3 linked regions of the Homo sapiens genome follow. The protein of the gene in region 2 purifies or fractionates together with the protein of the main gene of each other region. This does not show direct contact. Each region holds a gene or a part of one and is shown on either strand. Other genes may lie near its edges.

Evidence for each region.
Region 1: the proteins of CSGALNACT1 (region 2) and TMEM214 purify together in Homo sapiens (affinity purification with mass spectrometry; 3 studies listed by BioGRID and IntAct, with this or other methods). This does not show direct contact.
Region 3: the proteins of CSGALNACT1 (region 2) and ARFGEF2 purify together in Homo sapiens (affinity purification with mass spectrometry; 3 studies listed by BioGRID and IntAct, with this or other methods). This does not show direct contact.

What each region holds. Positions count from the first base shown.
Region 1 is NC_000002.12:27,028,177-27,036,026, forward strand, and holds the start of TMEM214 (transmembrane protein 214), read left to right. Parts: upstream 1-4,788; 5' UTR 4,789-4,839; coding exon 4,840-4,990; intron 4,991-5,890; coding exon 5,891-6,090; intron 6,091-6,958; coding exon 6,959-7,109; intron 7,110-7,417; coding exon 7,418-7,552; intron 7,553-7,793; coding exon 7,794-7,850. UniProt on the Homo sapiens protein: Critical mediator, in cooperation with CASP4, of endoplasmic reticulum-stress induced apoptosis. Required or the activation of CASP4 following endoplasmic reticulum stress.
Region 2 is NC_000008.11:19,417,768-19,425,325, forward strand, and holds part of CSGALNACT1 (chondroitin sulfate N-acetylgalactosaminyltransferase 1), read right to left. Parts: intron 2,752-7,558; coding exon 2,573-2,751; intron 984-2,572; coding exon 889-983; intron 1-888. UniProt on the Homo sapiens protein: Transfers 1,4-N-acetylgalactosamine (GalNAc) from UDP-GalNAc to the non-reducing end of glucuronic acid (GlcUA). Required for addition of the first GalNAc to the core tetrasaccharide linker and for elongation of chondroitin chains.
Region 3 is NC_000020.11:48,987,215-48,994,772, reverse strand, and holds part of ARFGEF2 (brefeldin A-inhibited guanine nucleotide-exchange protein 2), read right to left. Parts: intron 6,470-7,558; coding exon 6,385-6,469; intron 6,283-6,384; coding exon 6,111-6,282; intron 5,489-6,110; coding exon 5,337-5,488; intron 5,218-5,336; coding exon 5,089-5,217; intron 3,734-5,088; coding exon 3,575-3,733; intron 323-3,574; coding exon 175-322; intron 1-174. UniProt on the Homo sapiens protein: Promotes guanine-nucleotide exchange on ARF1 and ARF3 and to a lower extent on ARF5 and ARF6. Promotes the activation of ARF1/ARF5/ARF6 through replacement of GDP with GTP. Involved in the regulation of Golgi vesicular transport.

The DNA of each region.
Region 1 (7,850 bases), on a different chromosome or scaffold from region 2:
TCAATCACCTCCACCACCCCTTTTGACTCCCCCCCCCCATACATAGACACTTCTGCCTTATTCTATCTCTGTTCTCCTCCAGCAAGTTCCTTGCCTGCTTTTACTTATCGTGATGATTTTAATTCCCTTGCCTAATTTTTAAAGGCTTTTCCCCATGATTACAGGTAGATACCATGAAAGGATAGGCCAGGCCGAGACCTCACCCTGAAGGTAAAGTGGGTGTGGGAGGCAGAACAGTGCCTCCCCCAATGTCCACATCACAATCCCCAGAAGCTGTGAATATGTGGGTTACATGGCAAAAGGGAATTAAGCTGCCTGTGGGCCAGGTGCGGTGGCTCACGCCTGTAATCCCAGCACTTTTGGAGGCCAAAGCGGGAGGATCACTTGAGCCCAGGAGTTCAAGACTTCCCTGAGCAACATAGGGAAACACCATCTCTACAAAAAATAAAATTTGAAGGGCGTTGTGGCACGTGCCTGTAGTCCCAGCTACTCAGGAGGCTGAAGCAGAAGGATCACTTGAGCCCAGTTGTTGTTAAGGCTGCAGTGAGCCATGATTGCTCCACTGTACCCCAGCCTGGGCAACAGACTGAAACCCTGTCTCAAAAAAAAAAAAAAAAGAAAAAAAAGTTGCAGATGGAATTCAGGAAGTTAATCTGCTGACCTTAAAATAGGGAGAGTGTCCTGGTTTATCCAGGTGGGTCCAATGTCATCGCAAACGTTTATAAGAGTGGAAGCAGGAGGCAGAAAGGGTCAGAGTGGGCAGGGTGTGGTGGCTCATGTCTGTAATCCCACCATTTTGGGAGGCCAAGGCAGGAGGATCACTTGAGCGCAGGAGTTGGAGACTAGCCTGGACAACAGCGAGACCCCATCTTTACAAAAAATAGAAAAATTAGCCGAGCATGGTACTACATGCCTGTAGTCCCAGCTACTTGGGAGGCTGAGATGGAAGGATCATTTGAGCCCTGGAGGTCAAGGGTGCAGTGAGCCATAATCATGTCACTGCACTTCAGCCTGGGCAACAGAGCAAGATCCTGTCTCAGAAAAATAAAAGAAGAGGTCAAAGTGAAACAATGTGAGAGTGACTCACCCACTGTTGTTGGCTTTGAAGACAGAAGGGAGCCATGAACTCAGGAATGCAGGTGGCCTCTAGAAGCTGGGCAAGGCAAGGAAATGGATGCTCCCCCAAAGCCTCCAGAAAGGAACCCAGCCCTGCTGACACCTCGATTCTAGCCCAGGGAGACCTGAGTTAGACTCCTGCCCTCCAGAACTGGAAGATAACGCCCTTGTTTTAAGCCACTAAGTTTGTGGCAATTTGTTTTAGCAGCAATAGAAACGTAGTACAGTGGGTAAAACAGTGCTTCGGTGAGCTCACCCTTCTGCTTGCTCCCACACTAGACACCCATGTCCTCCTTGACCCAACATCTTTTGGGTCTTCAAACCCCACGGCGGGGCCTACCCAAGCCCACCTCCGTGGCTAGTGTCTAAGGCTGCTCTTCAAACACCCAGAACTTAAGGATGTAAAGCCACTCCCTTCTCCCCACCTCTTCCTGGTACCTCATACTAAGTGCTTCTTTCCTCTGGAACACTAAGATGGTGAACTGTAATTTTCTGTTTATACATTTGTCCCCCACACAGACTTCAAGTTCCTTACAAGCAAGTGAGCTATATCTTCCAGCTCCACCTAGCACAGGGCCTGACACAGAGAAGGTGCTTAGAAAAGGTTGCTGGATAAGTAAATGCATGATTTATATGTCCTAGATGCCAAGTTAGAACTGGTAACTTACTAGACTATTCCAATGAAAGATAGAGTCCCTCTCCCACCCTTCTGTGTGTCTCCACCATGGGGCAGCCCCCTCATTTGCCTCAATGGAAAGCCAGTTCTGTTTCTCTTCCAAAAACATGGTCTCTTCTGTGATCATACATGTGACACAGGAGGGGTCAAACAAAGAGAAGATATTGTTGTTGGTCTCCTGAGTACACCTAAACCAATGATCTGCAAAATGAATTGATTAATGATCAGTTCAAATATGGTCCTTGGCAAAGGCACTGTATCTCAGAGCTACCGGATGCAAAGTCAGCCATGGTCAGGCCTAAGGGGGCTGGAGGACAGGTAGAAGGAGGCAGCAAGATATGCTCATCTCCCACCCCCTGCCTTCCCCTACCAACACTTCACACAGCCACATTTACCCTTCCAAAAGAGTGGATTATGCCACCCTCTCACTGGTCTCCCAGGGCCTGAAGGATAAAGTCCAGATTTGGCAGGCAAGTTCCTTGGCATATGGGCTCAGATCCCTTTCCAAACTCATAAGAGGCTATTGTTGCATTGCTATAAAGAAACATCTAGACTGGGTAATTTATAAGAAAAGAAGTTTAATTGGCTCACAGTTCTGCAGACTGTATAGGAAGCATAATGCTGACATCTGCTTCTAGGGAAGCCTCAGGAAGCTTACAATCATGGCGGAAGGCAAAGGGGGAGCAGGCACATCACATGGTAAAAGCAGGAGCGAGCAAGCGAGCGAGAGAGAGAGGTGGTGGGGAGGTGCCACACACTTTTAAATGACCAGATCTCATGAGAACTGGGATCCACCATGAGGGATCCACCACCATGATCCAAACACTTCCCACCAGGCCCAACTGCCAGCGCTGGGGATTACAATTCAACATGAGACTTGGGCAGGGACAAAAATCCAAACTATATCAAACCTCATCACCTCCAAAGTCCCATCAAGCACTGTCCCATTGAACTGCTTCCAGTTTACCACCCTCTAGGCCTTTGTTTTACATCAACAGATCCACACAACTGGCATTTTCTCTCCACCCACCCTAACCCTCAGCCAGTGAACATTCAATTTTGTTTTTTGTTGTTGTTGTTGTTTTGGGTTTTTTGAGACGGAGTTTAGCTCTTGTTGCCCAGGTTGGAGTGCAGTGGCACAATCTCGGCTCACTGCAACCTCCGCCTCCAAGGTTCAAGCGATTCTCCTGCCTCAGCCTCCCAAGTAGCTGAGATTATAGGCCTGCGCCATCATACCTGGCTACTTTTTTGTATTTAGTAGAGATGGGGTTTCACCATGTTGGCCTGACTGGTTTCGAACTCCTGACCTCAGGTGATACCCACCTCGGCCTCCCGAAGTGCTGGGATTACAGGCGTGAGCCACGGCGCCCGGGGAACCAATGAAAATGCTATTTCTCAGAACCTATCTCAGCTGCCGTCTCCTTCGGGAAGCTAAACTCCTTCCTAAGGAATGCATCGCTCCCTCAGCTGTTCATCCTGTAGGAATTTGGACTCTCTTAGTTCTTATCATAATACCTCAGTATGGCAGGTAGGAATCTCATCCTCACACACAGTTGTACATGAAATAGCACATTTCCTTAATTGTGATAAGTCACTTTGATTTTATCTTCCCTCATTCTCCTCTGCTGGCATGCTTCAAGGTTCTGAAGGCTCCCAGGATACTAACACCCTCCACGTGGATGTCTGAGCAGGAACCTGTCTGCAGATGCCTCAAGTCTGGGGCTCTCCATCGCTTCCCTGACACATCTGGAACTTGGGATTGACTCTTATGGTGGGAGGCAGAGCCTGTTCTTTCTCATTGCCTGGAAGGGGAAACCCGGCCCTGGCTGTCCCAGACCCCCAGACTTTTCTCAGCCTCCCATGAGAAGAACTCAGAGGCCAGGAGCGGTGGCTCACTCCTGTAATCCCAGCACTTTGGGAGGCTGAAGAGGGTGGATCACTGAGCCCAGGAGTTTGAGATCAGCCTGGGCAACACAGCAAAACCCAGTCTCTACAAAAAATACCAAAGATTAGCCGGGGGTGGTGGTGGGTCAGGTGATCCGTGGTGGGGGATCACCTGAGCCCTAGAAGTTGAGGCTGCAGTGAGTCGTGATCGCGCCACTGAACTCCAGCCTGGGCGACAAAGCAAGATCCTGTCTCAAAAAAAAAAAAAAAAATTATTCTCCATTCTCCACCTCCTACCCCAGCTCCCCAACACTCTGCCCTTTCCTCAAGCCCCCATCCTCTTCCTTGTTCTTTGGCAATAGATTTGTATAGCCCATTAAACCCGAGGTTTAATCACTAGCAACAGTAAAGCCAGCACTTTCCTAGAAGGAAGGAAGCATTTAATCTTCAATCTCTCCCTAGATATGAGGAGCACTACTTCCCTTCCATCCTTCCAGCTCTACGAGAAAGGAAAGAAAAACAGTGGCCGGGCGCCGTGGCTCACGCCTGTAATCCCAGCACTTTGGGAGGCTGAGGGGTGGGGGTGGGGTGGGTCACTTTAGGTCAGGAGTTCGAGACCAGCCTAGCCAACATGGCGAAACCCCGTCTCTACTAAAAATACAAAAATTAGCTGGGCTTGGCAGCGGGAGCCTGTAGTCCCTGCTACTCGGGACGCTGAGGCACGAGAGTCGCTTGAACCTGGGTGGCGGAAGTTACAGTGAGCTGAGATCGCGCTACTGCACTCCAGTCTGGGCGACAGAGCGCGGCCCTGGCAATCAATCAATCAATTGATCAATAAAGGAAAGAAAAACAGAAACAGTTCTACCAAGTCTCTCAATGCCGTGGCCTTCACATCGACGCTCAATGAACGTTCTCAGAAGGGAATCTCCTCTCCTCCCGGCCTCTTCGCCTGGGCGGGGGCCGCAGGCTGCCGCGGAAGCCTCTTCCCGATGCTCTTCGCTCAGGAGAGCCCGGCCCAGGAGAGGGACTACAAGTCCCAGGCTGCCTTGCGGCGGGCGCCGGGCGCCGGGCGCGCGGTCCTGCGAGGAGACGTGGCAGAGTGCGGCGCGCTCGCGCCGGACCGGAAAGCCGGGGAAGTGGCCGAGGAGGGAGGGCTGCGAGCCATGGCGACCAAGACGGCGGGCGTGGGGCGGTGGGAGGTAGTGAAGAAGGGTCGGCGGCCTGGGGTCGGCGCCGGCGCCGGCGGCCGAGGAGGCGGCAGGAACCGCAGGGCGCTCGGGGAAGCAAACGGAGTGTGGAAATACGACCTGACCCGTGAGTACCCGCCCTGCCCCGCCGCCTACCCCAGGCCTGTCCGGCAGGGTCGCAGCGAGCGGCTCCCAGAACCTGGGCGCGAGCTCGCAGGCACATCCCCGAGCGCCACGCTTGCGTTGTCTCTTTGGAGCCTCACGGGAGGCAGACAGCTCCAGGGAAGGTTGCGGTCCTCACCTCCCAGATGAGTAAACTGAGGCCCAGTGAAGTTGGATACCTTGGCCAGGGTCATGTGTCAGAGGGGCTAGGATTCCGGTCCTCAGACTCTCAGTTCACTGCACACACTCTCCCAGCTGCCCAGGGCCCTAGCTGGTCTCTCTGGGCAGGTGTCTGAGCTTTGAAGAGGTACTGTGGATCATTATACACGGTGCCCCCTCTTTAAGTAACCAGCAGGTCATGGAGGAAGGGACAGGAGGCCCAGCAGTGGGAGAAATGACCGCCACACACTCAACACTCACCAGGAATTATAAGTGACACCTGGTTCTTCCACTGAGGAGTGGAGAAAGATTGCCACTTGTTGATTATAGAGTTGTCATGTCGGAACCAAGAGGCGTTAGGGTAGGACCAAGATGGAAAAAGCTTGTCTTCCCAGACTAGTAGCCACTCACTGAATAAGGCAAACCTCTATATCCAACCTCTCTGCTTGTTCCTACATACTCTGATTTGTCTAATGAAGAACTGCCCCATCTTTATGAAAGAGCCCATAGACTCAAGAGCTGTAATGAAAGAAGCTACCAGGAGAACAGCCTGCCCTGCTCCTTAAGCAGTCCAAGAGGAAGGGGCTTTGAGACAGGCTCTTCCCTGGAGATGAATTAGGTGGCAGTGTGGGGAAAGGGACCACTGATAGGTGAGGCCTTGGGGACTCAAGGGTGGCCTGCCTTTCTCTACCTATCTTCACCCCAGCTGCAATCCAGACCACAAGCACCCTTTATGAGCGGGGCTTTGAGAATATCATGAAGCGGCAGAATAAGGAGCAGGTCCCACCCCCTGCTGTGGAACCTAAGAAACCAGGGAACAAGAAGCAGCCAAAGAAGGTGGCAACTCCTCCCAACCAAAACCAGAAGCAGGGCCGCTTCCGCAGCCTGGAGGAAGCACTGAAAGCTGTGAGTGTGCCTAGACATGAGACGCAGAAAGAATGGGGGCTTGAGATTTAGAGAAGATGAGAGGAGGGGGAGGTGGATGGGCAGCTGAGATCCTATGGGATTTGAAACACTTTAAGGGTTGAGAGGAGTTCAGGAAAAGATGGAAACCCCAGGGGAACAGAATGCCTGCACTTAGAATAGAAAGGAAATGGAAAATTTATAGGGAAACATGGATTGGTAAGAGGAAAGCCTTGAAGACCCAGGAACACCAGGGAGGAGATGGAGAAACTGGTTATGATTCTCTGTCCTATGGAAATACTGATCTTTCATTTTCTGTCTTGTCCTCTGTTTTCCTCTTTTTTTTTTTTTTTTTTTGAGTTAGAGTCTCCCTCTGTCGCCCAGGCTGGTGTGCAGTGGTGTGATCTCAGCTCACTGCAACCTCTGTCTCCTGCCTCAGCCTCCCAAGCAGCTGGGATTACAGGCGTCTGCCACCACGCCTGGCTAATTTTTGTATTTTTAGTAGAGATGGGGTTTCACTACGTTGGCCAGGCTGGTCTTGAACTCCTGACCTCAGGTGATCCGCCCACCTTGGCCTCCCAAAGTGCTGGGATTACAGGCGTGAGCCACCGCGCCTGGCCCTCTGTTTTCCTCTTGAACATGTGGAGGGCCTGAGAGGATAGGGCCTGAGATCAGCATTTTCAGCTGTCCTGTTCCATTCTTAAAGATGTAGGTACAGCAGAATTGCAGCATTCCATGTTCTTATGCTTAAAAATGGAATCCCTTCTTCCTACTGCCACCTAGTTCAACCATTTTCCCACCCCTACCCCATTTCTTTACTCCCTCACTCACAACTCGCCATGGTGGGGGGTTGGGGGATTGTCCCTGGCAGCTGGATGTGGCAGACCTGCAGAAGGAACTGGACAAGAGCCAGAGTGTGTTCTCTGGAAACCCATCCATATGGTTGAAGGACCTGGCCAGCTATCTCAACTACAAGCTACAAGCTCCTCTAAGTGAACCCACGCTGAGCCAGCATACTCATGGTAAGTCCTTCCAGCTTCCTCAAGCTCAGACAAGTTCAAATAAATTCAAAAAGGGTGGTATAACAGATCCCAGTGCCCCACACTGTCCTGATTTCCATGGGTGATTTGGGCTGGTCTCAAATCATCGTGACTGTGAATGTTTCTGGGCCTCATTCTGTGATCCTCCCTCTGGGCCTCCTCAGAGGAAGGATCCCAGCCTCAGTGCAGGGGCCTTTGCCTCCACTCACCATTCCCAGGGAGAGCACCACAGTTCTCAGAGCTGATGGGTGTCTGGTCCTAGCACTCACATTGAGGCCTATGGGCCTTAGATTATCCCTACAGCCTGGTGAGCCGGGAGCTACGTGGGATCATCCGAGGGCTGCTGGCGAAGGCAGCAGGGTCTCTGGAGCTCTTTTTTGACCACTGTCTGTTCACCATGTTGCAAGAGCTGGATAAGACACCAGGTGAAAGGGGCACGGGAGGGATGACCATCTTGGGAGCCTCCTCCTTTTTTTCCTGCTTCCAGTACCACTCAGTGGTTCTGTTTCCAGCAGAGAAATGTGCTAACCTTAACACTTTTTGGAAAGTGTGGAGGAAGTTAGGAGTCAGTGGACCTGGGGCCTGGGCTCACCGCTGACAAATGGGAGATTTCAGGTTTGGGATGCCAAATAATGTGAGTAGGTGTGAGAATGTGTATCTCTCCAGGGGAGTCACTACATGGTTACCGCATCTGTATCCAGGCCATCCTGCAAGACAAGCCCA
Region 2 (7,558 bases):
CTCATCTCCCCGCAGGAAAAAATCACAGCCCAACTTGAGGTGGGAGAAGGGCCTTTTCCCTCTCTGCCAATGCTGTCAACAATACCGGGAAATTCCATCCATGGGGGCCATGCCCAGAAGACACAGAGATCCTCTTCTGGCTTGCCTTTCCTCCTGCTGCTTGCATTGCTTCTCTGCAAAGTGGACTAACTGCCTGTGACAACAGAGACATCTCACCCTACAGGGACCCTTGGGGGCTGTGTGCATCCACTATCCATCACCTGTGCAGCCAGGATCTTAGCAGAGAAGTCCTTCCAATATTCCTTTGAGAGCCACCTTGCCAGTGACACCTTTAATGCTAACGTCTACCCAAACACTGTGATGTGTGGGAACAGTGGCATGATGGGAAGGGAACGGTGGCATGACGGGAAGGGCACTGGGAGCACACTGGGAGTTTCCACTTCAAATTCACAAAGACCTTATTTGCCTGCAAGGTCCAGGGAATTGCTCTGGCCCTCTCTGGGGTGAGCCACCCCATTCTGATTTCTGTCAAATGGGAACATAAATCTCACCTTTGTTACCTTGTAGGATTTTGCAAAAATCAAGAGAAACTGTACTGCATCCATAATGCAACAATACCAGTTTCCAAAAACCAGTGATGGAAACTATGAAGGTGTGAAATTACCTCTCTGTAAAGTACTGCTTCCATTTATTTTCCACTTTAAATATTGCAAGCACTTTTAATCAACGAGGCGCCGGGAGCAGAGGCCAGCACATCTGCCAAACGTAAAAACTACTAAGGGAATCATTGCACAGATTTCTACTCACCTTTGCTCATGGTCAGGTACCCCTGGTAATGACAGACACTAAACAGAGCCACACAGAGCCATCTGCAGGGTAATTACTCACCAGCTGCTGTTCCAAGGGAGGGACTGCATCATGGTGGCCGTATATTATGCCAGGATTGTACTGACTGAAAAGAACTGGATAAAATACCTTCTTCCCTACAAACCAGAAAACAAACATTCACTTAAAGTGACAGATCCAAGTAGTAGGTTTGTTCCTTGACATTTGGCCCTCTGAAACACCCCAGATATTTGCACCCACTTTTTTTTTCTTTGAGAGGCAGTCTCACTGTCACCCAGGCTGCAATAGAGTGGCACAATCTTGGCTCATTGCAATCTCTGCCTCCTGGGTTCAAGTGATTCTACTGCCTCAGCCTCTTGAGTAGCTGAGATTACAGGTGCCCGCCACCACACCCGGCCAATTTTTTTATTTTAGTAGAGATGGGGTTTCACCATGTTGGTCAGGCTGGTCTCAAACTCCTGATCTCAAATGATCCACCCGCCTCGGCCTCCCAAAGTGCTGGGATTACAGGCATGAGCCACTGCGCCCGGCCTGCAGCCACTTTTCCTTTTCCCTTGACTCAACTCTAAAATGGGTCTTAGAAGTGCAGCACCAAGTGGACCAGACAGTCATATCTGCAAATATTTCTGATCTCCCAGCGCAGGAATGATATTTGGAATACTGACAGACCATGACCAAGCACTGGGCATCACGCCTTGGGAGGGGGTGTGAAAGAGAGTCCTGGTGCCCCAGCCCCGCCAAACATTAACCCTTTACTTGCTGGCTCATGGGATCATCTTAAATGGTTGACTTTGGGTCAGGGTGACTTTGGGCAGTTGGACTAGACTTAGAGTGTCCAGGGTGGTTGCTCTTTATCAATTTACACAAAAGAATTTCTGTATTTTAGCAACTGGCATGGCTGTGCCAGTGTTCATCAGCTCAATAGCAGCCTTGCCTATGAGTGGAGTCTGTGAAAGTCATTTTAGTACTGTGGGTTCTTTGTGCGAATAGCTCTTCTACCCTAGGTAACTGCCCAAAGGTACTCCTTTCTCTTTAGGGTTGGCAGTTTTCCAGCTCCACCTCCTCCCCACCTCGCTTTCTCCTGGGAATGTTCATGAAAGCTGACCTCCCAGTTGCAGACGGAAGAGGGGTTATGGACATGAACTTGGGAAAAGAGTCCCAGAATTATGGTGGCTGACAGGCCCATGATGTGGCCTCAAAGGAGAAGTCAAACCAGATGGTGACGTGGTTTGGCTGTGTCCCCACCCAAATCTCATCTTGAATTGTAGCTCCCATAATCCCCAGATATCCTGGAAGGGACCTGGTGGGAGGTAACTGAATGATGGGGACAGGTTTTCCCATGCTGTACTCATGATAGTAAATAAGTCTCAAGAGATTTGATGGTTTTGTACATGGGAGTTCCCTTACACACACTGTCTCGCCTGCTGCCATGATAGACTTCCCTTTGCTCCTCCTTCACCTTCTTCCATGATTGTGAGGCCTCCCCAGCCATGCAGAACTATGAGTCCATTAAACCTCTTTCCTTTATAAATTACCCAGTCTCAGGTGTGTCTTTATTAGCCGCGTGAGAACAGACTAATACAGATGGTTTTCCTTTTCTTTGCTATTGAAGTAAAACAGGCTGATTCAGAAGCAGGACATCAGAGTGACTGACCCATCAAGAGGACGACACATGGGCCCGAGAGGGCTGGGGGCCACCTGAGCGTGACAGAGAGATGATCCATACCTGGCTGTGTATTCAGCCTACACGTATTGAGGAATTCAGATGTGAAGTAGATGTCCACATCACAGAAAAAGAGAAGGACGTTGCTTCCCTTCCAGAAGCGGGCTCCAACATCAAGTCCCTTTCCCCGAGAAAATTCTCCATTCAGCTGGATGAAGGTAAAGTTCCTGAAGTTGGCAGCTCTGAAAGGCAAGACCAGGTACTGTCACTCACATTCCCACATGTTGGCAGCATCCCCTGAGAAAATATGTAATCAGGGCCCATCCACATCTTGACCCATTTCTTTTGTAACCTGAGGGCACTGGGACTCCCCAAGAAGTTACAGAACGGCCCAGACTCACAGGATACTCACTGGGATCGAAGGTACCAAGAACACCTAGTGGAGTTTTAACACTAATTTCTTCCTTGTTTCTCTGGCAGTTTCCCCGTATTGAAAACACTCTTGTCATCATTAATGACTATTCTTTGTGATGGAGAAAACTTGAACCAGGTAAGACTAGAAACACAACCCTGGAAAATCTTCGTGCATCCTGAGCCAACCGAATGAGGCCACTGAGCCAAGGAAATAAGATCACATTGCAATGGCCCCACTTAGCATCTTTTCATCTGCATTCACATCCAGGAGCCAGGCAAAATGTTCTTGATGTGAATCTTTCCTCCAAACAGATTTAAACCCAGATTCCTTCCGCATCCTCGGGTAAAGCAGCACAGCATGGCAGGAAAAATGACCAACTTGCAGTTAGAAGAGGACTGTTTCAGGCCTGGCTCTCCTACAGATAGCTCTGTGATCTAGGCCAGCCCATGAATCTTCCTGAACCTCAGTTGCCTCATCTGCTAAATAGGTGTAGTAACACCTTCCTTCACTATCCCACAGGGTTATTAGTGAGATAAACAGTGCCAAGAGTATACAGCACTCTGTAAGCATCAGCTATTGCTGTGATTAGCATGGGCAAGGATTCCCAGGCCCCAGGCAGTGAAGCCAGGATGTTTCTCGCATTCGTTGTTCTTTCCCAGGGACAGCAGAACCTTCTGAAATGGGGCCTGTCTTAAGCTAACGTTCCACGAATTCATTCCATGCCCAGTGGGACAGGTATTGTCTTCTACCAGATAATACTAGAGAACCACCTTCAGTCTTCTTTCAGCCTAGCAAATCCCTTTTCCTGTCAACGACACCCTTCTTTTCCTAATGGCTTCCTTTCCTCTCACACTCCCCGTCCTACCAGCTACCTGGCCTATCCCCATGCCCCAACTTCTCTCTACTGTTTCTTTCCAAAAGGTACAGAAACTCATTTCCAGTTTGTAAAGTTTGCATTCCAAGTACCCGTCTCGGGTAAAGGCCAACGCAAACATAGAGTCATAAACTTTTAAAATGCTAAGTTGTATTTGTATCTGGAATTGAATCAGTAAAACTAGTTCTGCGACTCCCTCCTTGACTCATCTTCTTCTTTTGGATCTGGGAGTGAGCTTGGATTCTTATCTTAGGGATCAGTGAGCCCATGTCAGAGTTTGATGCCAAACATGCCTTTCAGATTTGGATCAGGTTAGGAGGCCTCATGATGGGTAGAGCACTGGTCTAGGAGTCTGGAAACCTGGATCCAGGACTAGAACTGTGCCTGGGGCCCCATAAGTGTTCAACAGATGTTTCTGAATGAGTGTATGAATGTATGAATCATTCTAAACCTAGCTGTGCCTCTGATGGATTTGAGGCAAGTCACTCTACCCCTTTTGTCTCTGTTTCCAGGTACAAAATCCAGTGGTTACAGAGCTCAAATTCCCCTTTACACACTAAGACGCTATTTTTCTTTGGTTAAAAAAACTTACTTTACATATGTACATTATATATACTTGTATATAATACACTTTTTCTTTTAGAGACAGGGTCTTGCTCTGTCACCCAGGCTGGAGTGCAGTGGCATGATCATAGCTCACTACAGCCTCAAACTCCTGGGCTCAAGCAATCCTCTTCTCTCAGCCAAGTCCCAAGTAGCTGGGACTACAAGTGCATGCTACCATGCCCAGCTAATTCTTAAAAATTTTTTATAGAGACAGAGTCTCACTTTGTTGCCCAACTCTTGGCTTCATGCGGTACTACTGCCTCGGCCTCCCAAAGTGCTAGGATTACAGGCATGAGATACCACACCTGGACAAGACTCTATTTTTCCTATGATCCTGCATTCACTTCAGCACCACTCTACATTTGCAGGGATTCTCTTCCTCTTTCAGAACTTTATCTTGAGTCTTTTCTCTGGGGGGGTGCCCCCATTGCACATTTTCTGTGTGTTGCATTGAAGTTATGCTCAAAACCTTTTCAGTATTAGGTATGGCACCAGTCAAGGACACGCTATCCTCCCGTCTCCAAAGACATTCAGATGGTGTGAGGTCACTGCGAGCACCTTCATGTCTCTTAGAGGTGTCTGCAGCCCCAGCTCCTGTAAGTCAGGTCAACCCATTTTTCCCTTCCCGGTTTGGTCAGTTTCCAGGAAAGGTTTACCCATGGGAGATGCCTGGATTTTTACCTGTTCATCTAAAGGCACCTGATCCTGGAGTCCATCTTGCTTTAACTTTCTATGTATTTAATATATACAGCCAGTAGCAATTCTCTTTCTTCGCTGTTTCCAGGTTCCTATCTTTTGGGACCTCTTCCTCCCCATTATACAGGGATATCTTCTAACTTTCAGAGCACAAACACAATGTATGAGCAAGTCCTTCCTCACTCAGGTTGCACCTGACTCATAATTCAGGTACCTTCTCCAGGAGGGTTTCTAGGATCTACTACAGGAGAGTTCAACTACAAAAATACCTGAACAACAGCAAGTGACTTTTGCCAAGGGAAGAAGAACATAGGCTCTTAATAGGCTGCATTAAATGAGCTGCGACATCAAGAATCTCCCCCTTGAACAGCCTACAGTCCATTTGTATAGATAGGCCAAATATTTACAAAAGTTAAATCATGTTGAGTAATTAAATAAGAATACAAGACAGTGTTAGAAACTGAGGAAACAGCATGAAAGAAATGACGAGTCTACAAGTGATTGATTAACTGCTGAGTGAACGGTAGAGACAGTGCTACAAATTTAGAGGGAAGAGTGGTAATTTGGTGGTGTGCATGCTTACCTAATGCACAAGTTAATCTAGTTTATTCTGTGCATGAATCCCCTAACCCTGGCTTGAGCTGTTGCTAATAAATGCTGTTCTCTCCTCTGCTGCAACAGAGGATTGGGTACAGGATGGGCTTCCTGTCATAGTCATGGGAAAAGGGGTGGGAAGAACTTAAGGTACCTAGTGTCTGACATGACCTTAATTTGGAAGAACTTTTTTTTTAAGCCTTAAAATGTAAATCCCTATGCTTCCATGATGTGTTGCTTCTAGAGAAAGAAAATTCAGGCAAATGGATGCTGGGGAACACTTTATATGGCCTAATGCAAAAGGCAATTTGCTTCCTTTCTCTTCATGCAACCTTTCTACAAGGAAAAGACAATGCATGTTATATCCATGGCACTACCCAATCTGAATATGCATTTTGAATTCACTTCATGTGTCCACAGGCTGCACAGAAAGCCCTGGGAAGTGGTACCCAGCTCTGTCCACGCACTGTTTCCATGTGGACCATATGGGGGCCGGCGCACACACACACAGCACCAGACACCTCGGCTTGCCTGTTCTCCCTGCCCCACGCAGGACTCTGCCCTGATCTAGCTTTGCCTGGGACTTTCATCCACCCTGATCAACACTGGCCAGAAGGCAACATTGCTGGCTTGGCAGTATGGGTCCATGTTAGAGCTGCTCTGAAGCCCTGACCACTCACCAGGTCCTGATGAGAGAGCTGAACATGAGTGTGCACAGAAGGCAGGGTGGGGACAGAGTCACTGCTGGCTTGGGAAGCACCATCAGGCAGTCACAGACACTGGAGAAGGCCCAGAGTGCTAACTCTGTCATCCATCTGTGTTTCCCAGGGTGGCTGCCAGGTCATTATGCTCAGCTAGGGGTCCGTCTGAGGATGAATAATGGTACAATTTTCCTTCCTGATTCCTCAACCCAAGGCTTTTTTCCAATAAACCAGTGATCTGAAAGAACCCCTCCAACTCCTCTCTTGCCATCAGGAAGAGCCTCTGATAATTACCAAGACCCTCTGCCAAAAAAGAGGACTGAACTGGAAAAACCATGAAAAAAAATCAAGACAACTTCCTGTCTTTGCCAAACCTCCTGGGCCTAGAAGTGGGGCAGCCTCCTCATCTGAAACTTACCAGTACTGGCCATGTGGGCTCTAGAACAGGATATGACAAGATGAGGAGGAATTGGCTTCTTCAAGTAGTCAGGCCACTTATCAATGCCCCATATCCTCATTTTGAAGCAGTGCTCATTGGGCAGGGACTCCATCACTAGACTAGAGTGCCCCCTGCTCAACAGTGGATTGAAAGGCAGCAGAACCATTCAAACACAATGACACACTTCAACTCAAATCACTGATGTGCCCAACGTAGTGTGATGGTGTGGTTTGGGAAGGTCCGCACCATGGCCATGAGGCTGCAGCCCCCAAATGCAGACTGTAGTGGTTGCCAGGCAGGCATGCTGCTTTATTCTCTGTCCTGCTTCCCCCCTTCCAAGTAACCAGCCAGGAGCAGATGATTCCGATTGTGAAAGAAAAATAGAATCTCAGGACCCCAAACTCACCATGCCAAAAGGAGAATTAAGCTTGAGAACTGAGTCACCAAGACTGTTCTCCTGACCAGGTGCAGTGGCTCATGCTTGTAATTCTAGCACTTTGGGAGGCCGAGACAGGCAGATCACTTGAGGTCAGGAGTTCGAGACTGAACTGACCAACATGGTGAAACCCCATTTCTATTAAAAATACAGAATTAGCCAGGCGTGGTGGTGGCGCCTGTAGTCCTCACTACTTGGGAGGCTGAGGCAGGAGAATCGCTTGAATCTGGGAAATGGAGGTTGCTGTGAGCCGAGATCGTGCCATTGTGCTCTAACTTGGGCAACAGA
Region 3 (7,558 bases), on a different chromosome or scaffold from region 2:
CAGTTTAATCACAATTAAGAGGCCAAAGCAGCACGTCCACTTGCATTCATGAACACTGTCAGATGGCACAAAAGGAAGAGACGGTTTACAGGACAGTCCTGATGAGACAAGAAGGGTTTCATCCCCGTTAGCTTGCAAATCCGTGACTGTTAGCTGTGGGGCCTGGTGTCTTACCGAGGCCAAGGCCCATGAACTCTTCTCCTGCCAATGTGTGGCCCTTCAGGCTCCCTTCTCTTTCACGCCCAGATCCAGACAGGTAGCGCGTCTTCACACCGGTTCCTATCAGCTGAGCGAGCTCCAGCTGGCTGATGCATTTCAAGATCTAAGAGAAAGAAGGCATGAAGAAATGAGTTCCTACCTTACAGCTAGAAAAAGGGCACTGTAATCTTAAGTTAGTCATTAAAAAAAAGTTGGTTCAATGGAGTTATGCCATATAGATGTTTATGCAAATTTAGTAAGCTCTCAATAAAGAGAGAAAAAGCATTTGACTGGGGCGGCGGATTCCTCCCACCATGTCACTTAATAGGCACATCATTTAGTCACCCCCACCTCCTTTTTCCACCCTCCTCGTGAGACGACAAGACACCAGCCTCATTGGCCTCACTGTTGCTCCTTTAACTTGTCATCTCTTGTCCCACCTCAGGGCCTTGGCACTCACTGTTCCTTATGCCTGGAATGTTGTCTCCCCATGGCTCACTCCTTCAATTCCCAGCTCAGACATGTGTGTCCCTCTCAAAGAGATCTTTCTTGTGAGATCGTACCTTCCCATTACCATGTCCTGCTCATACTTTTTTTTTCTTAGTGCTTACCACTTTTTGGCATTATACCATATATCTATTTGTTTGTTTCCTGCCTTAGGTGCCAAGAGGGCATTAACTCTGTCTTGTTCACTGCTGAACACTTAAGTCCCTGGCACTTAAAGTTGTTGGCAATCGTTAATTGGTTTAACTGAAGGAATGAGAATATGCTCTACATCAGGCATGCAGTGGGAGATGAGGCTGGATCTCCTGGTCCTGAGGGGTGCCTCTGGTGCTTGAGAATGCAGATCTGCACACGGGCCCTCCTACCTGAAGCTCAGCTGTAGAAACAGAAACTGGTCCCAACTTCTGTCAGAGGAAACACTGGCTACATGAAACTTACCAAGGAATGGCACACAGACCTCCAGGGAAACCCTAAGGAATTTTCATGGGAACTTCTGACTGAACTTCAGTGTTGCTTTTTACGCTGACCTTACAACTCAGTCCCAGAGTCCAGGACTCCACTATACCACTGAGCACTGCCGAGTATCTTTACTTATAAATTGCTTTCTTCTTGACTGAGAAATAGACTTAATTCCACCAAAGAGAATCATCCCCTGATTTCTTCACACACTATTAAATTATTATTAGTAAGCTAGTAATGTCCTCCCTTTTGCAGAAGCTGGGGACAGCTGGAATCTCAAGTACGTCACCAATACTGAAAGGTCAAGGGCTTATTAGTTCCAAGCTGATTTCTCAGGGCTTCTGACAACCGCAGAGGTAGCTAATTAATTTTTAACATTTCTAGATTCTGCCATATACTTGGCTGGCAGCAGGAACCTCATATTGATAATACCTCCCAGGCTAAAAAAATGTTTTAGAAGAAAAAGCAACTATTCATTGATTCTCTACGTATTATGGCTCCTTAGAAGGCAGGAAATGATTTTAAAAAGCACACAATTCAAAATATATATTTTTTTATTTTAGAGATGAGGTCTTGCTCTGTTGCCCAGGCTGCAGCACAGTGGTGCAATCAAGGCTCACTACAGCCTTGAACTCCTGGGCTCAAGCAATCCTGCTGCCTCAGCCTCCTGAGTAGCTGGGACTACAGGCATGAACCACCATGCCTAGCTAATTAAAAAAATAATTTTTTTTTAAAGATATGGGGTCTTGCTATGTTGCCCAGGCTGGTCTGGAACTCCTGGCCTCAAGCCATCCTTCTGCCTCAACCTCCAAAAGTTCTGGGATTACAGGTGTGAGCCACTGTGCCCAGCCATAACTCAGTTATTTCTAACATGGACTACTCAGAGTTGTGACAGAGAGAGGAAAGGCTGGTGAAGAGGAGCAAAGCCATACGCCACGGAGATGACAGCAGGTAACACTATTGAGTTCTTATTACTTGCCAAATACAGTCCCAAGCCCTCTTCATTTTCATAACCACCCTGTGAAGATTGTAGAGATGAAGAAGGTGGGACTCGGTGACTAAGTAACCTGCCTGTGCCATCCAGGCAGGAAGAGGTGGAGCCCCAAATCAGACCCCAGTTGCCAGGCTCTAGAGCCTTTACTCTGAATCTGAGCCATGTGGTCCACATGGGGAAGAAGGATGACAGCAATTTTCTATGTCAAACTGTCCTTTACATTCTCCACAGCCTCATCTCTATTCTTTCACAGTTTTCTCTCTAAACAAAAAAGTAATACATGTAGATGGCAGAAAAAATTAGAAATTAAGAAAAAAAAGAATAAAACAGTTTCCATAATTCTATTTCTCAGACAGAATGTTAATGCTTTGGTCTATCCTTTCAAACTGCATTCTCTGTGTATTTTGCCACGAGAGACAATGCCTCACAATCTCTTATAACAACTTGTAATTTTACTGTGACCATTTTCCCACAATAGTCTTTAAAATCATCTTTTATCTTCTTTTCTGAAATCTCTTTTAATTCATAGGTAACCCTCCTCCCTTATTTTTCTTGCAATTTTTTTGCTGAAAAACCTGGTCATCTGCTCTGCAGGTCTGTCACACCTAGAATTTCCAAGCTGCACCCTCATATCTAACATGCTTCTCTGTCCACTGTATTTCCTGTAAACTGGCAATATAGGCTTGAATCAATTCAGATTTGAGTTGGGGCTAGAACATTTCTTAGGTAGTATTGTGTACTTCCATCAGAGAGCACATACTATCTGCCTGTCTTTTTTTTCCACAACATTATTTTAAATGGCCACATAACATTCTAAAAAATGCTGTACCATACTTTTTAAAAAAAGTAGCAATCTCTTATATTGTTGGGACATCTAGCTCTTTTTAACCCAAACTTTTCCCTAGAACAACTAAAACTGCAACAAATATCCTTTTAAATACATTGTTGTACACATAAGTAACTATATCCTTGGGTGAGAATCTTAGAATACTGTTTTAAAAACATGTGAATTCACTGGCACTCTCCCTAACAGCTCATTGTGACTATCAACCATTTCTAATCAGGCTCCTGGCTTTGTCTTAAAATTACACATTGATCACAGGAGCTCCCAAGCTCCCAAGAGGTACATAAGGACTAAAAAAAAAAAAAAAAATGGCACTAATATGGAAAGAAAGTTGCAACAACAGAAGTACACTTCATGGGGGACACTGGCTGCTGGGTGCAAGGGTGCTCACTGTGAGCTGGTGCGCCTGAACTCGCCCCCGCCTTTCACAGCCCCAGAGAGGGTGACTTCCAGATACATGAGGTACAGTGATTTGACTTCAAGAAAAACAGAACTGACCAAATGAGATCAACAATGAATAAAAGGAAGCCAGGAGTCATCCTAACTGAGAAAAGGCAATTCAAAGAGACACGTACCTCATGCCAGGAATTCCCAAGGTAGTTGCCATCGGTGTGAGCCACTGTGATAAGCGTCTTAATGGTGTCGATGTTTTTCTGCTTCATTTCTGTGATGCTGGAGCTGGCTGTGAGTAGGGAGAAGCGAGCAAGAGCCTGAACATAGGCATCTCGTTCCAGCTGTAACAGAAACCCAAGAGAGAACACTGTGACTCCAACCTTAGTGTGGCCATTCTCACATCTGCAGGGCTGGCACACTGGGCTTCTCTGATACTTTTTGTATGCACATTGACTGGCTTTCTGCACATTAGCACAACAGTTATTCCATGCTAATGCCCTCTTGCTTTTGGAACATCTTGCAGAGGTATCTATGCACTGCCACATGTTTGAGAAGCAGCTCTCTCCTTTCTAATTGACTTCAGTCAAACTCACCTGTCCCATGTTCCACTATGTCTGTTGAATACTAAGACTGTCACACAAATTGACATCTGCAACAATTCTGCCAGGCAGGTCTGTTTTCTCAAGTTTACAAATGAGGAAATGAATTGGTGTCTCAGAGAGACTTTAGCTGAGCCAATGTCACATGGTTGGAGAGGTGGCAGAGTGGGGTCTTGAAACCTAGATGGTCTAACGTCAAAGCTTGTGGTCTTGGTATAAAAGAAAATGTCTAACTGTAAAATGAATAGGAACAGAAGATTGAGTTTTTAAAAATAAATGGGGTGCAACTTCTGACTTACAAAGTGATGCATGGGATTGTCAACCTCCTAATTTCGTAACAGTTTCAGAATTACATTTCATTTATTTGCTTGAACTTTTCAAGTTTCAAAGGTTTACAGACATATTCATATTGCATTGAACTACTTGTTTCTCCAGGGAAGAGTTGGAAATATGCGAAATTATAATAAAAACTGATGTTAAAAAGGAAATAGTATTTTTAAGCACCAAAGCAGGCAAGTTAGGCAGATGAACACGAAGTCTGCTTTGTCAAATCCAGTCAAGAAGCTTGGACCCTACCTATTATTATTATTATTATTTTCTTTGAGATGGAGTTTCGTTCTTGTCACCCAGGCTGGAGTAAAATGGCGCGATCTCGGCTCACCGCAACCTCCACCTCCTGGGTTCAAGCCGGTCTCCTGCCTCAGCCTCCCGAGTAGCTGGGATTATAGGCATGTACCACCACACCCGGCTAATTTTATATTTTTAGTAGAGATGGGGTTTCTCCATGTTGGTTAGGCTGGTCTCGAACTCCCAACTTCAGGTGATCTGCCTGCCTTGGCCTCCCAAAGTGCTGGGATTACAGGCGTGAGCCACTGTGCCCAGCCTACCCATTCTTAAAGACAGTTTTAATCCGTATCTCCATTTTTGCCCCTAACGAGCTGTCATCACAAAGCTACGGATTTCTTGTCAGTAGGCATAAGTAAGTAGCTTGCTAAGAGTCTTGATTAACTGAAAATTTCTGATAATTTCTAAGTTTTGCCAAATCTAAAAGAGCACAACCCACCAGTATCTCTGGAGTGTTGCTGACTTACACCTACCTGCATTCCAAAGATGCAGGCGATTCGGATTGCACATCGGATGCCTTCCAAACACAAGGAGGCCACTTCAGTGTCATCACAGTTCTGGAGTCCGATGCTGTAGGCTGCCAATAGTGGCGTCCACACCAGCTATCATGGAAGGAAGATTTCAATAACATCCAGAGTTTTAGCGTGGAAAGAGTACTTCTCGCTGGCCAGCTTCAGAATCAGGCTTAGCCACATGCTTGCTAAGTTCTCAGGATACTCACTTTGAACATTGGCCGGACATGGTCCAGGTGAGTGGCACTGGTAAACGGGGCTTTGGCATGGCTCACAGCCTCCATCAGAGCTTTGGCTGTTTTAGCCATTTGCTCCATCTCTAAGTTGTACAGCAGCCGCCGCTGCTTTTCACTAGCTACATCTGTAAAGTAAGAGCATGATAGGTGTGGCTAGCAGTCACTGAGGGCTGGCTACATGCCATACACTGTTTCAAAAGATGCACAATGATTAACTCCTAAATCCTCCCAACCATCTCGTGAGTCCATTACAAATATTATTATTACCATTTTACAGATGGGAAAAATGAGGCAGAGGGGGTAAGTCACTTGCCCAGGGTCATACAATTACTAAGTAGAGGAGCTGGGACTTGATCTAAGGCAGTGTGGCTCTAGAGCCACACTCTAAACCACTACCCTTTGCTGCTTCTCAAACAGTGAAACTGACAGCTCCCCAGGGGCCATAACTAATAGAATTCTAATCAAGGCGGACACAATCTGAATTAAAGAAAAGTTTTAAAGAACACTTTTTGGGAGTAATTTAGTTCTCAGATTACTAATTTTAAATTCCTTCTTGCTCCTCATCAGAAATCTAGCAAGACAGTGACATTATAAAAGTCCCAACATAATCACAATAATTAATTCAATCACATTTCCTATTCAGATATCCAGCTATGCACATTAAATTTATCACCAGAGTATTTAATCATGCATTCTGATACACTAAAAAATTAGAACTAAAAGAAATAATTTGCCATTAGACCTTACTCTGCTTAGTAGATTTGGTTGCAATCGTTAGCTCTTTTGTTTCTTTCATTGCAATTTTCTTGCCTTCTATCTCTTCATAGATGCTTGAGAGATACTCTTCTGGCAGATCTTTACTATCATTGATACCCCGATTCATTTTAATATACTGCTCTTTCGTCATTTTATTTTTTACCTGTAATTAAAAAAAATTAAAAACCATTTAAAAAACATCCAATTGCCCAAGTAAAGCCACTTATTTAGCTAATACAACATGTAAATCATTAAAGTGCTTTACCTGAGGACTGTGCAAGTCTGTAGTCAGCATAATAATTGAATACGCTAGGACATAAGCAGTGTCAGCACTAGCAAACAGAGTTTGCCTGGAGAAAAAAATTCGAGACATCAATATTCATGGTGATGCGGTTTGGAAGGTACAATGCTAACAGAGACACACTTCACGAGAAAAGCAGCCGACTACTCCCCTTGATTCCAAATGAGGCAAGAGTTTTTACGCTTTCATCATCACTGAACAAGACTTAGCAACCCAGAGTGTAGAAAAAGCTCATTAACAATCTGTATCAAATTTTAGCTTCTTTGGCAGGGCGTGGTGGCTCAGGCCTGTAATCCCAGCACTTTGGGAGGCCGAGATGGGTGGATCACCTGAGGTCAGGAGTTCGAGACCAGCCTGGCCAACATGGTGAAACCCAATCTCTACTAAAAATACAAAAATTAGCTGGGCGTGGCAGCGGGTGCCCATAATCCCAGCTATTCGGGAGACTGAGGCAGGAGAATTGCCTGAACCCGGGAGGTGGAGGTTGCAGTGAGCTGAGATTGTGACACTGCACTCCAGCCTGGGTGACAGAGCGAGACTGTCTCAAAAATAAATAAATAAATAATAAAAATTGAGGCTTCTTTGAATAAAGCAATTTCAAATAATTTTTTTTAAAAAGACTCTAAGAAGCATCTGGGGCCAAGACTAGGGTGAAGCAAGTGAGCACATCAGGAGACCTTACACTTGGTGCTGACCCTGAGAGAGGGCATCTCACTATATTTCACACACTAAGCGCTTGAGTGCCTCCCCCACCTTGTCCTGTTCCTGAGAACATCTATTTTGTGCCATGTACTGTGCTAGACATGAGATATAAAGATGACTAAAACTGCTGTTTAGCTGTTATTTATAGTCTATATTACCCATTATAACATTTAATAGTAGAAATACCATGGAAAATATTTATGTTGTTCTAAACAATATGTTGGTGAAGTCTGACTTTTTTGCCTTAGGCAAGAAGAGAAGGACAACATGTGGATGTACAGCTTCATACGATATGAGGCTGAAGCTAGAAACTGTTCTGTCCAAACTGTCCATAACAGGAACAGTAGAAATTTTGAAGAACACAACAAAGGTCTTTTAATATGAGATGAAACTGGGTCACATATTTACTGACTGAGCAAAACAGACCAAGGCTCCC